Linked DNA regions of Homo sapiens. The protein of the gene in region 1 interacts with the protein of each later gene in a pairwise test. Each region holds a gene or a part of one and is shown on either strand. Other genes may lie near its edges.

The links.
Region 2: the proteins of PAK1 (region 1) and ADD1 interact in binary tests that used the Homo sapiens proteins (3 or more experiments, as listed by UniProt).

What each region holds. Positions count from the first base shown.
Region 1 is NC_000011.10:77,463,545-77,468,612, forward strand, and holds part of PAK1 (serine/threonine-protein kinase PAK 1), read right to left. Parts: intron 1-5,068. UniProt on the Homo sapiens protein: Protein kinase involved in intracellular signaling pathways downstream of integrins and receptor-type kinases that plays an important role in cytoskeleton dynamics, in cell adhesion, migration, proliferation, apoptosis, mitosis, and in vesicle-mediated transport processes.
Region 2 is NC_000004.12:2,923,144-2,928,070, reverse strand, and holds part of ADD1 (alpha-adducin), read right to left. Parts: intron 2,058-4,927; coding exon 1,959-2,057; intron 1,430-1,958; coding exon of another isoform or gene 1,396-1,429; intron 1-1,395. UniProt on the Homo sapiens protein: Membrane-cytoskeleton-associated protein that promotes the assembly of the spectrin-actin network. Binds to calmodulin.

The sequences.
Region 1 (5,068 bases):
ATTCTTCATCAATATTTATTTACTTGTTTGTTTTAGCTAACAATGAAATAGAGCATTCTACTCCCAAGATACTATGCTAAAAGTGCTTGTTCATCTCCTCATTCTAGCACTCTAGAGAGGAGAAGAGAGACTTTGGCAATTACTGTCTCCATCTATAAAATCAGACTTGATAATCCCCTCTCAGTCCCTTCGGATTAACTAGGATATTACACAGGGTAGCGTTTTGAAAGGTCTCTTCCTCCCACTCCAACTTCATCTCATACCATTTACTCTTGCTTCCTATACAACAGCCATAATTTTTTTTAGTTCCTCTATGTTGAGGTAAACCAGCATTATCCAACTGAAAGATACGGTTAGCCTTAAAGAAAAGCCACATATGTAATCTCAAATTTTCTAGTAGCCATATTTTAAAGTTTGTAAAGAGGTGAAATTAATTTTAAAATACATTTAACCCAATATATTCAAAATATTAACAATTCAACATATAACCAATATAAAAAGTTAATGAGTTATTTTACATTATTTTTTCAGTATTGTCTTCAAACTCTGGTATGTATTTTATTTACACTTACAGTGCATCTCTATGTGAATCAGTCAGTGTGCTCAACAGCCACACTGGCTAAGTAGCTACCATATTGAGCAGCACATCTCTAAACTTTTACCTACTCTCAGGGCCTTTGTGCATTTAAAATGTTCCCTCTGCCTGACATGCTTTTTCCCCCTCAGTGTTCTGCATGACTAAAATCTATTTATCATGCACATCTCAGTTTAAAAGCATCATTTCCTCAATGAGGTCTTTTCCTTATCACTCCAAAATTCTCTACATTAGTCCTTTATCTCTTTTGTAGGACTTATCAAAATCTGCAACTGTCCACTTGTATATCTACTTACTTTTCTCTGTATTACCCTCTGGAATGTAATCTTTGTAAGAGCAAGGACAAGGACCATGTCTGTATTATTTATGAGTGTATCCTTAGTACTAAGTACAATGCTTGGCACACAGGAAGAAATCAATAAATATGTGTAGTCTAATTAAGGAATAAATAGAAGCACTATAGAGCTGTACAGATGCTCCTTGACTTATGATTAGGTTACGACCTGATAAACCCAACTTACACTGAAATACTTTAAGTCAAAAATGCATTTAATACACCTAACATACCAAACATCGTAGCTCAGCCTACCCAACCTTAAACATACTCAGAACACTTACGTTCACCTACAGTTATGCAAAATCATCTAACACAGAGTCTATTTTTTAATAAAGTGATGAATATCTCATGTAATTTATTCAATACTGCACTGAAAGTGATTGGATGGGTATTCCAAGTATGGTTTCTACTGAATGCATATTGCTTTTACACCATCATAAAGTCGAAAAATCATTAAGTTGAACCCCTGTAAGTCAGGGACCAGCTGTATTGGATTGGTACATACATGAAAGAGTGTGTGTGTGTGTGTGTGTGTGTCTGTGTGTGTGTCTGTGTGTGTGTGAAGAATATACTCAGCAGCCATTCCTAACTGTCCTGGAACCTTTACCACATAGTCAACTAAGTCAATTATCCGGCAAGTGGCAATGGATAGTAAAAAAACGATTTTTTGAAAGAGTTAGAGGGAACTATAAATATATTTTACCATTCTCCTAGGAACCTACAATTTTTTAAAAAGTGCCACTGGTCAGGGCAGCACCCAAATGATCAGGAACAGGTGACCAGATTTGGAGACAGAAAATATGAATTAAAGATTCCAGTTTGTAACTTCCCAGCTACATAATCATGCCACTTAACTTCTGTTCATTTATAAAAATATGATGGCTAAAGAACAGAATTAAGTTAAATGAGACTCTATATAAAAGGGTTTTGAAAACAGTAAAGCACAAAAATTATATATATAATCCTATATATAATCTCTAGAAAGTCCAGGAAACTTGGACTTTTCAAGTCTATCACAATGGGCTTTCTCATTTTGCTCACCTGGTTCTTTATTTTTTTTTAAGTTACTTTACAAATTACATATGTAATTTATTAAATTAAGCAAAATCTATCCTGGATACCAAAAAAATCTCAGACTCTGGACTGGTGAGATAATTCCATATGAGAAAATAAGTGGGAGGGAATGTTATAAAATAGTAATTCTTGGCCGGGCAAAGTGGCTCATGCCTGTAATTCCAGCACGTTGGGAGGCTGAGGCGGGCAGTTCACTTGAGTCCAGCCTGGGCAACACGGCAAAACCCTGTCTCTACAAAAAATACAAAAATTAGCTGGGCTTAGTAGCATGCCCCTGTGGTCCCAGCTACTCGGAGACTAAAGTGAGACGATTGCTTGAGCCCGGGAGGGCAGCACTGCAGTGAGCTATGATGGAGCTACTGTACTCCAACCTGGATGACAGAGCAAGACCCTGTCTCAAAAAAATAAATAAATAAAATATTAATAGTAATTCTCTAACAGGTAATTGGAGAACCAAGAGCCCCTCCAACTATACCAAGTCCCTCTTTACCCATCCCCAAAACTGGCAATTTACATTTTGTTCCTGTAGCCCATTGGGAACTATTTCCATAGTGAAATACTGTTACTGATGGACTACATCCCAGTGTATCACAGAGAAAGGGTGAGGGCAGGGAGTAGGTGAGAAGGTTAAGAATCACTGTCGAAATATTCAAGCAAAGAAGTTGGCATCAAATTCAACACATTTATATGACAGCTAAGGAAAACTGAGTCTCAGGACGGTTAAGTGACTTGCTGTGGTTACACAGTAATAATTTTTAAAAATGTCTTCAAGGCCGGGCGAGGTGGCTCACGCCTGTAATCCCAGCACTTTGGGAGGCAGAAGCGGGCAGATCACAAGGTCAGGAGATTGAGACCATCCTGGCTAACACGGTGAAACCCTGTCTCTACTAAAAATACAAAAAATTAGCCGGGCATGGTGGCACGCACCTGTGGTCCCAGCTACTTGGGAGGCTGAGGCAGGGGAATGGCGTGAACCCGGGAGGCAGAGCTTGCGGTGAGCCGACATCGCATCACTGCACTCCAGCCTGGGCGACAGAGCAAGACTCCATCTCAAAAAAAAAAAAAAGTCTTCAAATGACAGCTTGATGTCTCTGCTCCTAAATTTCCTCATCTGTAAAATGAGTTAGCCAACATCAGTCTAGCACATTACAGCTTCCAAATTGTTGTGCATATATCCACAGAGCTTACCTGATTCCCTACCACACCGCAAAAGTCTAAGACGGCTATGGTGTAATAGAAAAAGCATGATGAACTAAACAATCATAAGAACCTGGCTTCAGATCTTAGCTGTGCTGTATAGCCTCAGCAAGTCAATTAACCTCTTTGTGTTTTCTTCTATCAAATGAATATAAAACAACACCTGTCCTAGCTAACCCAGGGGATTGTCCAAAGAATAAAGTCAGATAATATCAGTAAAAGTATTTTGTACATTATACAAAAGGCCCTTCATCATCTGGGCCCTGCCTCCTCTCTGCTCTCACGCCTCCCCACTTTACACCCTATCTTCTAAGCATACTAAACTACACAGGGCTCCCCAAACAGGCTCTCAAATCTTCTGCTCACATATTGCTCTCTCTTTCAAGAGGGTCCATCATCTCCCCTTTCTTCTCACCCCTCCCTGACTGTGCTTCGTTAACCCCTGATCATTTTTCAGAACCCATCTTAGATGTCACCTCCTTTAAGAATGCTTGCCAGGCCACCCCCATTTCAAGTGCAGCAGATGCCCTTCCTCTGTGTTCACATGGCACTTGCACTTATCTCCATATTTTTGTCATTTTTTGTCTCAATGTAGTGTAATTGTCTATGCACATGTCTGTTTCTCCCGGAAACTATAAACCCAAGGGTAGAGGCTATGATTCATCTGTTTATTCAGAACCTATGACAATGCCTGATGCATAATATGTATTTAGCAAATGAATGAACTTTAAATGGCAATAAAATATTACTTTTCATATAATACTTACATAAGACATTTATGCAAAACATTGTTAATATAAGGCAGTGCTTCTCAACTTTGCATATCAGAATCACCTATAAACCTTTCAAAATAGAGATGCCAAGGCAACTCTTTACATCTTCACAAGTAATTCAAGTGCATAGCCGAAATTAAAACCACTGCTACACACAATCATAGTCATAAAATTACAAACTACTCTACCTAACATCTATATAGCTCAGTATCTTACAATTCACTTTTACATATATTATTAATCTTCACAAGAATTCTGTAAGTTAGGTATTATTTCTTTCAAATGAACAAATAGAGATTTAAATAAGTGTCCAAGTAGCTCTTTGTCTAACTTCAAATTTTGTGCTCTTCCTTAAACCCTCCCTTGGTAAGTGCAGTAATACACAAATCAAGGGTTCCACCAGTGAGGAAGACATCAATCTTAGCTTTGTGGGAATCCAGGAGGAAATAAGGAAAGCTGGACCTTAAAGATATAGGCAGGCAGATGAGGGTGGAAGCCATGCATATACTGTCATTGTCATTTGCCATCCCAAAAGATTCAAAAGGCAGATTCTATAAATTAGAAAATGCTCTTGCCAGCCTCAGTTAGTACTTAACAGTCTGAAAGGGAAAGGGATATTGGAGAAGGCTGGAAGTAGAAAAGTAATAAAAGAAAGCAGCCCATAAACAAGAATGGATTTCCCAATCCTGCATGCAAATTACCTAACTCTGACTCCAGGAACAAAAGCCAAGACATAATGGACTTAAGAATTAGATGAATTCTACAGTCAATCAATACCACGAAAACTCATGAGGGATGAATGAACCTCTGGTTCTTTCTAGACTTACTACTACACTATTCCTCAAGAAGGGATAATCCGGAGAAGCCTAGCATATACATGACTTTCCCCATCTCAAAAACTAAAAGAATGGGAGAGAAGAGGAAGATATTCATGAAAGAAAAGGCTTACAAAAAGGGTAGAAAAATGTAGCACATTAAGTTAATAAATTTACGATGGCACAGGGAAATATTCAGGCACAAGTGATTCCAAATACTGGATAAAGCCTGATCTGGCAGCTTCAGTAAAGAGGTATTATCTTCTAAGTCTGCAAC
Region 2 (4,927 bases), on another chromosome or scaffold:
TACTCTACAGATTTTTACCAAGACAAGAAACTTAAAATATGGTCTACTCTACTGTACGGCTGGATGGAGCTAATATCATAAAATACAGACTCAGTCTCGGGGTAGTTTTTAGCTCCTTCTGGTGGGCAGTGTGCTGACAACACCAGACTCCGTCCCAGGCCTGGGTCCCCCCGCCGGAAAGACAGACTGCAGCACAAGCTGAGGACGACTAAAGGAGCGACGTCCCGCTTTCATTATGTGACGAGAAGTCTGCCCTGTCACCCTAAGGGCATGTACTAGTAGTACTGAAATTAAGTCTAAATTTGGGTCTACAACACCTGGTCTCCCCCAAAACAGCCAGTAGAAAATCGTGCATAACTCCCACAGCACGTTGTGTGACGTCAACATCCAAAAGAACAAAGCCGTTTAGGCTGGAAGTTAATTAAAAGGAAAGAGATGGCCTGTAAGGCAAGGAGTGGGGGCAAAAACTCCACCCAGCATCAGGAGTGGCCATCTGTGAAGGAGCACAGCGGCCCTGAGGACACAGCCTGGGGGCGCCTTCCTTGCACTTACCCGGGCACCCGCTCTGTCCATTCGTAAACGGCCTACAAAGTTACCAGCAACTGACAGGTTAGGCACCACAAGCTGTTTAGTGTTTAAAAATCAAGCCACACATCAGGGCCAGGGGAGTCAGCTGAGTGGTTAGGAGCAGCACAGGAGGCCCAGGCCCCAAACTCTCAGTGCTTTACCTTTGGGAAGCTGGAAGCACCCCCACCCTGCCAGCTGCCCCAGGCTAATTCCAGGCCACGCTTCATGAGAACCGGGAAAGGGCTATGGGCACACAGGCGCCGCTCCCCCTGAGGAGATGGGGCCCGCTCTGCTGGGCATGGTGTGGCTGATGCTAGGACGGAGGCTGCCCCAGGGCACTCGCTCTGGAGAGCTGCCATCATCTGAGTGAACATCACACTGCTTTACGAGGGTCCAATATCCGCTCCTCTGCCCACCTCCTTTGGACCAGCTTCAGCAAAGGTCCAAGGCAATCTGACCCCACACGGCAGGTGGCAGAACCCCACCCTGTCTGAACCGAGGCTGCACTTACATCTGATCCAGTGTGGCAAAACCCTCCCACCAAGCAATCCAAAGAGACCCTCAAAGGCTGGAGGTAGGAACTCCTGAGGCCCAGAGTGCTCCATGGCACCTAGGTGCGTGGAGGTACCCGCTGCCGCTGAAGGCAGCACAGCACTCAGGTGACTGAACCACTTCCAGGAAGGCCTCCAAGGGACTGGGTACAAAAAAGGGGGGCTTCTGTTTTTATTTTAAATAAACAGAAAACAAAACTTAATAAACAACAAAGAAGCAGGAGAATGAGGCAAAGCGCAGGGCACCGGTGGAGAGCGGAGGCAGCACGGTACTTACTAGGGTAACAGGTACTCTCTAGCGCATCCGTCTCCTGCTTGTGACGCAGCCACAGGGAGAAAAAAGCACAAGGAGAGAATCTATGCATTCAGTCACAGCCATCAGGTTACAGAAGAAGAAAGGCAGGGCCACGGGCTTCACGAGAGACATGGATGTACGAGACCGAGGGACAGACACCCGGGATCACACACCACAGACACACGGTGGCTGAGAGGCAGCCGGCGTGTGGCTCACACAGCGGAGGGCACCTCCGAAGGTGGCATCTGCATGACAACACGGCACGAGGAGTGTGCGAGCAATGGGCAACGTGGACACCAGCAACCATGGTGGGTTCCGACCCCCGAGGCCGGCCTTCCTACCTGGTCACAGCTCACATACAAATCTGTTTTGCCTGGAGTTACCCAGGACAGAAGCAATATAGGAGGAGAAAGGTGTCACGTCCTGGCGCTGATGCAAGCACACACTTCCGTGTTGCTGTTAACACGACTCCCGCCACATTCCGCCACAGCGCGCACGAGCCGTGCACCCTCCCACAGTGGCGGCCGCTGCCACCCAGAGCTCACCTTCCTCCAGCTTGATGGGAGTGCTGGGAGGCGGGTGGGGGACCGCAGGCTGGTCTGGAGGACTCTTTTCTTTCTGTTCTCTAGCCTCGTCCAGATTCTCTGCAGAGAAGCAAGAAGGATATGGTAGGAGCTGTGGACGCCACGCCATGAGCCTGTACCTGCCTCCATGGCAGATGGGGCAGCCCGCTCGGCCGCCCTCTGAGAAGGCAGGGCTCTCTCAACCCTTTCCCTGATCCTCTCCAAGAGAGGATAAAGGAAGCTGTGACCTGGGTGTTGACTGATGCGAATTTCAGAGAAACTTAACCAACTTCAGATACAAAACTTATTTCTATTCTTATTCCAAAGAGAGTCTGCCAGAGCCACTTCTGTGATGGACTCGAATGGTATGCCCTGGCCTGTCCCCCGCTGTCCTGTGCGAGTAGGGACCCCTCCCTCCCTGCCTTCTCCCTGCTGAGCAGGTGGCTGAGGGTCCTGAACCCACTCACCACCTTAAGGGACATCACATGAGCATTATTTTGGTTTTAATTCTGTGGTAGGGCATTTTATCCCAATAATTTAAACTTGGCAACTGTAATACGTATTTTTACTTTTTAAAGTGAAAAATGCTAATAAGAACCAGAGGAAAAAATGCAGGAACTAGGATCCTGGATATAGAAAAGGATTCCAAGTCTACTTCTCATTTCGGGGAAAATATGGACCAGCACTATTCTAACTCCTTCCATCTCTGTCTTTATTTCAGAAGTTTAAGATTAATAGCTTAGGATCAGCAGGTCCGTATTTTGAACCAGCAGCTATCATCATCCTTCTGAGCTCCCAGGGCCTCTGCTCCCACCCTAACAGCTGGCTCGCCTCCCCAAGTACCACGTTGGCAGCTACCTTCCAGAAGCCAGGTGTCCATAAAAAGGCCGCCATACCACCTAGCTGAGTGAGCATACAGCCTCAACCGGGAAAAGGTGCTGACCTCTGGCAGCCAGCCTGCATTTTACCTGTGGCACATTCTCCCCTCAGCCCATGCCAAGGGCCAGATCAGACCTCCTGTGGGTTCTCCTGCTGACAGCTCTGTGATCACAGAGCACGGCCAGAGCCTGTCCCCATCCACTCAGCTGCCATCACAGCCCTGCTGAAGGAGCCTCACACATCGGGGGGAAACTCCACATATCTTGTTTGACTTGTTTTTAAAAACAATCCAGGTTACTCAGATCCCAGGAGACTCCAAAGGGCAGACACATGTCTGTGTACATGTGCACAGAAACTAGGAGGAGGCCACATGACCCACAGCTCAAGCTGACTACCTCCAGTTCTCGCTCTAAGGCAGGTAATTACAGCAATGGCTCAGACAAAGCTTCACTGGAGGGAGACAACCAGCAGCAGGGCCTGGTGTGTGTGGCGGCCTGAATAGTAAATAGCGGTGTGACACTGAAAAACAATTCAGCAACTCAAATTTCAGTCACAACTACGTAATGCAGTGGCTGGTCTAGAACGAGACAAAAACCGGTGAAGAGGTCCTCTTAGGAGGAGTGCCTAGCTCCCAGGATGACGACGGCCCAGGAGAGCAACAGTCAGTCCCACACAACAAGGTGGCTCCAGCAAGGCTGACCCCGGAGGACTGAGAAGCACACTGAGGTTTCAGTAAAAACCTGAGTTGGAGCTTACGGCCCTGAGGATGCTGGCGGGAGCCTCCTGGCAGGGGTCCCTGTGCCCCTGGTTCTTCTTGGTGCCAGCACCAAGGCTGCTCAGAGCCTAGTGGACAAGAGAGCTGGCAGCAGGGAGCTTGGGGGAAAAGCAGCTGATGCCCAAAAGCCCTCAAGGAATAGGCTTTGGAGACCTGCTTCTCTCATTAGTTCTCAACATTTCCTTTTCAAAGCCTGACATTTGAAACCACCTGCTCCGTGAGGGTCTCAAACTTGAGCCGCTTATTTGTATTCATTTTAAGACTGCCCCATCTTTGACAAAAACAAGACCGCCTTTGTCAGCGGGCTACCAAGAGAAGTACAGGCTGCACCAGCCATTCCTGATGGGACCTGGGCACATGCCAGGGCAGTCAGCATTTTCACCCTCCGGCCTGTGACCACACCTGCACAGGAAACCCTCAAGGTTTATGGAGAAAGAGAATTTCTGTCAGAAACCCCAAGCCCTACACACAAGCACAGTAAGGACGTTCAGAGCGTCCCCCTGCACAGAGGCCGGGGCTGACTGCTGTGACCAAAGACTCAGTGAGGAAGGCAGTGCGCTTCTGTCCAAATCAGGGCTCGGCCACGCACAACCTCGTTCTCGCGAGCCGCCCTGTCTGAGCTCCCTATTCCTCTGCTCCAGCCGGGGGAAAATGACCTATCTCTCAGGGTTACTTTGAGAATGAGATGAGATGTACGCACAATAGCACTGGGCATGTGCCCGGCACAATGACTGCTCAGCAATGCTGAGTGTTAATGAATCAAACTGAGTAAAGGAGGTCTCTCCCCGGTGAAGCTTCAACAGACAGAAATACTGTGTTCGTAAAGAGACAAATGTCAGGGTGACAGGCAACATGGCCGAATAGGAACAGCTCCGATCTGCAGCTCCCAGTGAGATCAACGCAGAAGGTGGATGATTTCTGCATTTCCAACTGAGGTACCTGGCTCATCTCCCTGGGACTGGTTAGACAGTGGGTGCAGCCCACGGAGGGCGAGCCAAAGCAGGGTGGGGTGTTGCCTCACCCAGGAAGTGCAAGGAGTCGGGGAACTCCCTCATCTAGCCAAGGGAAGCCATGAGGGACTGTGGCTTGAGAAACAGTGCATTCCAGCTCAAATACTACGCTTTTCCCACGGTCTTCGCAATCCACAGACCAGGAAATTCCCTTGGCTGCCCATGACACCAGGACCCTGGGTTTCAAGCACAAAACTGGGCAGCCGTTTCGGCAGACACTGAGCTAGCTGCAGGAGTTTTTTCTGATACCCCAGTGGCGCCTGGAATGCCAGCAAGACAGAACCCTT